2 linked regions of the Homo sapiens genome follow. The protein of the gene in region 2 interacts with the protein of the main gene of each other region in a pairwise test. Each region holds a gene or a part of one and is shown on either strand. Other genes may lie near its edges.

The links.
Region 1: the proteins of FKBP6 (region 2) and CCNK interact in a two-hybrid assay, tested with the Homo sapiens proteins (one large-scale study listed by BioGRID and IntAct).

Annotation. Positions count from the first base shown.
Region 1 is NC_000014.9:99,484,409-99,487,931, reverse strand, and holds part of CCNK (cyclin-K), read right to left. Parts: intron 1,480-3,523; exon of another isoform or gene 1,474-1,479; intron 1-1,473. UniProt on the Homo sapiens protein: Regulatory subunit of cyclin-dependent kinases that mediates activation of target kinases.
Region 2 is NC_000007.14:73,331,138-73,334,660, reverse strand, and holds part of FKBP6 (inactive peptidyl-prolyl cis-trans isomerase FKBP6), read right to left. Parts: intron 3,005-3,523; coding exon 2,885-3,004; intron 1-2,884. UniProt on the Homo sapiens protein: Has an essential role in spermatogenesis. It is required to repress transposable elements and prevent their mobilization, which is essential for the germline integrity.

The sequences.
Region 1 (3,523 bases), on a different chromosome or scaffold from region 2:
AGGACTCCTTATCTTCATCAATCCCTCGATAGCCAAGGAATACTTGCTTATGTGTGGGTACTGCTTTCATAAATTACAACACTGTGATTTGAATTATAGCATACAAAAAGAAAAGTGAACTAATTATAAGTGTATGGCTGATTGTTTTTCACAAAGTAAACACACCTGTGTTAACACTATTCAGTTGAGAAAGAGAACAGTACCAACATTCCAGAAGCTCTCTTCGTTCTTTCCTAGTGACTATCCTCCCAAAGATAACTATTCTGACCTCTATTTCCATCAATTTGTTTTGCCTGTTTTTGAAGGACTGTGCGATGACACAGTACCACTTTTACATTTGGTTTCTTCTGCTCAATATTAAGTTCATGGGATTCATTCCTGTTGTTGCATAAAGCAGTATTTGTTCATTCTCACTGCCGCAGAGCAGTGGTTTTTAAACCTGGGACAATTTTGCCCCCCAGGGGACATTTGGCAATGTCTGAAGACACTTCTGGTTTTCCTAACTGGGGGGTTGCCACTGGCATCTAGTGTGGGTAGAGGCCAGGAATGTTGCTGAATGTCCTCAGTGCACAGAACAATCCCCCATGACAAGAAATTATCTGGTCCAACATGTCAATAGTGCCAAAGCTGAGAAAGTCTGCTGTACAGTACAGTTATATCCTATGAATGCAACACACTTTATCTATACATTCTACTGTTTGGGCATGTAAATGTTTCTGGTGTTTGATTATTAATAAGTGTTAAACATGTACATATATTCTTATAGAACAGAAGGCAACTGGACAGTTGGCTGAGGGAATCAATATCTTAGCACATCTTAGCAATTTATTCACAGTTGGGAATTGCTACTTTAATATACATACGCCTAACAGTTTTCCATGTACTTTTTCATTTAAATATTTCCTGAGCATTTACTATGAGCCAGGCCTTAATGGCATGGCAGGGCACAAGATAAGTAAGGTCTTTGCCCCAGGAAGCTTACATTCTAGTGGGAGAGACAATAAGAAAGAAATATATGAATATTTGTCAGGGAATCTTAAGTGCCACAAATAATAACGCATGTAAGGGGAGAGAACATAATGAGGTAAGGGCTGTTTAGAGGTATGCAGAAAGAGGAAGAGTTAGGAGATTATAGTAGCAGTTCAAGTAATGCCTAATACACCTGTCTCCACACAATGGCAGCTGGAACAAGGGGTGTGTGTGTCATAATTGGCCATGAGGCAAAGAATGGAAAAAGATGATTTCAAGTTTGACTGACACAGAGGGTGATACTAAAAAGACAAATGGATAAGACAAGAGAAAAAGCTGGTTTTGATAAGGAGGGAGGAAAAGAATTTGGCTCTATAAATACTAAGCTTGAAGAACTTTAAGATCCTTTTGTGGAAATATCTATCAGACAGATAAATAGGCCAGTTGAAGTCTCTACAGAACATATCTACTTGGGGTTCATCTACACAGAGGTGATAACTATAAAGTCATGTTGACGGATGGAGGGATGGAGAGTGAAGAAGGAAGGGGTCTGGGTACAGAACTCTGTGAACTTGTACCAAGTAGGAAGAATCACCAAAGGCGAGCGTTTGCCCAGTGACAGGAAGGTAAAACAGACTTGAATGCACTTATGATTTACCCACTTGCAGACTAAGAATCACCAAATTAGAGAAAGGGAAAAAGACTGGTCCAAGAAGTAGGGAAATTTGCATCCTTTGTTGCAAAACAAACCATGGGATGTCAGCTTTAAACCAGAGATGGTAGTCAACAGTGACAAATGCTAAAGAAAAGTTAAAGGACAAGGAACTAAGGAAAGTTTACTTTAATTGGTGATTAGTTGTTTATTAGAGACACTGAAAATTGTGATGGTTTCATGACTCTGCAAATACTAAAAACGACTGATTTGTACAGTTTAAATGGGTAATTTGTACGGTATAGGATTATATTTCAAGAAAATACATATATACACATATAAATAAAATAACATTTTTAGAAGTGCAATAGGGCAGAAGGTGTAGAAACTGCAAGGGGTGGTAAAGAATGAACAGACTAGGAAATAGGTTATTCTTTTTTATTCATTTTTTAATTTTTTGAGACAGAGTCTCCCTCTGTCATCCAGGCTGGAATGCAGTGGTGCTCACTGCAACCTCCCGCCTCCAGGGTTCAAGTGATTCTCCTGCCTCAGCCTCCTGAGTAGCTGGGATTACAGGCATAAGCCACCGTGCCTGGCTGGAAATAGGTTATTCTTTTGAGGCATCTGTTCTCAAAGAGAGTAACAGGGAATAGTAGGGAGTAGGTTTTGTTATTGTTTTGGTTTTTATATATTTTTCAGCATAAAGGAGAATGAAAAATGTCTGCAGCCAGTAAAAACAAAAAGGAATCACTAGAGGAGTCAGAACAAGGGAGGCTAACTGGTCAAGGGATAATAAAAAGCACAGCAAGAAAGTTAACCTTAGAAAGAAAGCTCTTTCTTCCCCTGAGAATGGAAGGAAAAGTTTGAGAAAGATATTTTTAAATAATCTTTTAAGGGGGAGGAAGTAACTAAAAAATCTCAAGAGTACCTCCATATTCTCTAGGAAGTATAATGCCAAGATATCTGTTGAGGGGAAAGGGGCAGAACGGGGAACAGTGTTAGGAATACCCCAGTAGGGATGAAACTGGAATGGAAAAGAACCTCGGTCCACAAGCGGATAAATCGTAAGTATATTCAATTGTTTTACCTTCTGTAACTGGCCAAACTCCTGGTCCCTTTAGGTTCCAAGGCAGAATATAAACAATTCATGAAATGTAGTGAAAATATTATGGACATAAACAGAATAGAGACAGTCCTCAAAATCGTAGAACTCCCTGAAAAAGTTTTTGCCTCAGGTCTATAAACCTGTTCCCTATTACTCTTCAATTATTTTTTCACAAGACCCTAAAGTTGTAAGTTTTCTCATTAGTAGCTTGTGATTCCTCTGAAAATGACTGAGATTTATGAACTCTGCAAAATGAAAATCCATAAACAAGCAACCTGTCAAGGCATTTTAGCAGCACCTTTCAGGAATGTGCTTCATAAATATCATTTTACATCATAAAAGACTAAATATATTTTCAACATTTAGAATTATGGAAACAATAGTAAATGTCACCACTCAATTATCTCACCCAATATCGAAATCCCCTCTTAGTAATATTTGGCCACTTATCAATGAAACCTCATTAGTTTACAAAACAGCCTATGGCATTGCTGGGTATCAATAACTGGTGTTCACATAATTCCTGTATTCCTATATTGATTTTTATCTGTCCTGTTCATCCCCTAGATCTGCTACACAGATGGCATAAAATAATGCATGAATGAAATCTACCTTTTAGCGACTCTTTAACTTCTACCAGGGTCCTTAAACTAAGCCTTGAAAATACATTTCCCTTATCTATTGATTGTCTTTCAAACAGGTAAAAGCAATTTTTACATTCTCTTCTCTAGGGTAAACAAATCTAACCATTTTTCTCATCATGATTTTTCTTTTTTTTTAGTGTTTCAAGTCCTCCC
Region 2 (3,523 bases):
AAGAACAAATAGCCCTTCAATTTTCTAAAATTTATTTTTTGTAGAGATGGGATCTTGCTATGGTGCCCAGACTGATCTTTAACTCCTGGCTTCAAGCAATCCTCCCACCTTGGACTCCTGAAGTGCTGGGATTATAGGTGTGAGTCACTGTGCCTGGCCCCCCAGTTTTAAATGAAAAATTCATCAGAAGAGGTGGCAAAAAGTCAAGGAAAGCTTCCATACATGACACAAACAGGAGAAAAGATGGAAACTAGGTGGGGAGGGGGGAGGGACAGCAGCCAGAAGCTCAGTGCAGGAGGTCTGATAATAGGAGTTCCAGACAAAGAGGGCAGAGGGAACAAGAGTAAATTATCAAAGAAATAACTCAAGAAAGTTTCCCAGAGTGGAGGAAAAGTTTCCTGAATGAAAAGATACACACACGCAGAGGCACATCACCGTAAAATTTAGGAATGCCGGGGAAAAACGATCTTCGTCTCTACAGAAGAAAAAACAGGTCACGTAGAAAGGAATAAAGAACCTAAGTAGTAGTAAGATTTTTTTGTTGTTGTTGTTAGCTTTGAGCTCAGAACTAGCAAGACCTTTTTTTTTGAGATGGAGTTTCACTCTTATTCCCCTGGCTGCAGTGCAATTATGCCATCTTGGCTCACTGCAACCTCCACCTCCCGGGTTCAAGCAATTATCCTGCCTCAGCCTCCCAAGTAGCTGGGACTATGGGCACCCACCAACACGCCCAGCTAATTTTTGTATTTTTAGTAGAGACGGGGTTTCACCATGTTCGCCAGGCTGGTCTTGAACTCCTGACCTCAGGTGATCCACCCGCCTCGGCCTCCCAAAGTGCTGGGATTACAGGCATGAGCCACCGTGCCCAGCCAAAAGACTTTTTAATAACAACTCTAGACAAATATGTATTTAAAAACCAAGAATATTTTAGACATACATCAACATACTCTGTTAAAACAAAGGAGTAAGTTGAGAAAAAAACAGGAAATCCACAAACTAGCATTATAGGGCAGCCCCAGGACAAGAGCTGTGTGGCGGGCCCCAGGGAGATTCTCCCCTGGCCACGCATTGCGGGGTCACCTGGGTGGGAAGGAGGGAGGGGAGAAGAGTCTGGTGCTTGTGTTATGTTAAGAGCTTTCTGGAAGACCCTCCAGAGGTTTCCCTTTATGTCTCCTTGGCTAGACCCTTGTTACAGGGACACCCTAAGCTCATGGGAAGCTGGGAAGATGTAGTTTTTTAATTAGTACACTGATGCTTTGAGTGAAATGGGAGGTTCTGTTAGGAGAAGGGGGAATAGATATTGGGTGACAGGGTCGGCAACATTTGGCCTATATGAGTATGTTCCAGAGACAGCACACGCATGTGTGGTGTTTTGTTTTTTTTTTTTTTGGAGACAGAATCTTGCCCTGTTGCCCAGGCTGGAGTGCAGTGGTGCGATCTTGGCTCATTGCAACCTCCGCCTCCTGGGTTCAAGTGATTCTCCTGCTTCAGCCTCCCAAGTAGCTGGGATTACAGGCACCCACCACCATGCCAGCAAATTTTTGTATTTTTAGTAGAGACGGGGTTTCGCCACGTTGCCCAGGCTGGTCTCAAACTCCTGACCTCAAGCTATCCACTCGCCTCAGCCTCCCAAAGTGCTGGGATTACAGGCATGAGCCACTGCGTCCAGCCATGTTTGTTGAATGAATAAAATTAAAAAGGAAACAGAAAACAGCTCAGCATAACCTACACAAGAAGCAAAATCACAACAGGAGGCTTGATGAGGCTGCAATTGCCTCAGGCTAGAATCGCCAAATGAGCCTCCACTGTCAGAGACATGAAATGATGATGGCAAAGGGGTGGAGAAATCGGTTGGTGGAGGACCTAATAAGCACTGGGATGAGAATTTTTAAAAGTTAATAAACTGAATTGTTTTAGAGCAGTGAGATGGAAATTCTAAACACTTCTAGTTCAAGTACATATACAGAGGCAAATGTTTTTCACAACCTGAACACACCCATGTACCCAAGAACCACGTCAAAACACAGAACATTCCCAGGTGCCTCCCAATCCCGTGAGTCCTCTCTCCAGCCCTTATCCCCTCGAGAGTCCCCTCTTCAGCCCTTATCCCCCCGTTAGTCCCCTCTCCAGTACTTATCCCTTTGGCATGAGGATTTTTTTTTTTTTTGAGATGGGAGTTTTTTTGCCTTTCTTGCCCAGGCTGGAATGCAACGGCACAATCTCGGCTCACTGCAACCTCAACCTCCACCTCCTGGGTTCAAGTGATTCTCTTGCCTCAGCCTCCCAAGTAGCTGGGATTACAGGCACCCACCACCACGCCCGGCTAATTTTGTATTTTTAGTAGAGACGGGGTTTCACCATGTTGGCCAGGCTGGTCTCAAACTCCTGACCTCAGGTGATCCACCTGCCTTGGCCTGGCATGAGGATTTTTTTAAATGAGATTTTTCTTAATGGCTGCTCATAGAAAGTAGGGAGAAAGACAAAAATCTGTGTTTTTTGCCGGGCGCGGTAGCTCACACCTGTAATCCCAGCACTTTGGGAGGCCGAGGTGGGCAGATCACGAGGTCAGGACATTGAGACCATCCTGGCTAACACGGTGAAACTCTGTCTCTACTAAAAATACAAAAAAATTAGCCAGGTGAAGTGGCGGGTGCCTGTAGTCCCAGCTACTTGGAAGGCTGAGGCAGGAGAATGGCGTGAACCCAGGAGGCGGAGCTTGCAGTGAGCTGAGATTGCGCCACTGCACTCCAGCCTGGGCGACAGAGCGACACTCTTGTCTCAAAAACAAAACAAAACAAAAATCACAACAAAACAAAATCTGTGTTTTTTAAACAAGGAAGTTTTCAGGATCTAAACTTACACTTAACTTTCAAAGCATTCTCACCCTTTTATATCTCACTTTGGCATCATAGAAACGATTCTGGCGGAAAAGGTAGTTGCCAAACTCCCGTTCCGTAGCTGCCACTTTCAGGACCTTCTGAAGTGGAAATTGGTCTTGCTGCTCCTGAGGACCAGAGACAGGAATATTCAGCAAGGAAACCAAAAGCAGTAATGCCACAATGGAAGTGTTAGTACACGTGAGCCCAGGAGTTCGAGACCAGCCTGGGCAACATAGTGAGAACATGTCTCCATTTAAAAAAATAGTAATTGAAAGAAAGGAAGTGTTACTACAGCTGTGAGCTCTTCTTTTTCAGATCATGCACTTCTGTTTACAGCCTTCTGTGTTGGAGTCACCTCTGAATCTGACAGAAGCCACACCAGTGTTATAACCTGTCCCATTTTACACCCTAGAGCCAGAAGGAAGTCTACGTCTTCAGTCTTCCCCTGATGTTCTCTGAGGAAGCAGTGTCCCATGGAATCAAAAACTGACGGAACTTGCCAAGCACAGAAGTCAGTGCTCAAAACCACTATTTGGCCACCAAGCACTGAACAGGTCTTGGTTTGCTCAGGGCCCTGGCAGTCTTTATGGTCATGATGCTCTGCCCTGGCCATCTTCAGAGTCACCCATAGAGCCTCTCTGGTC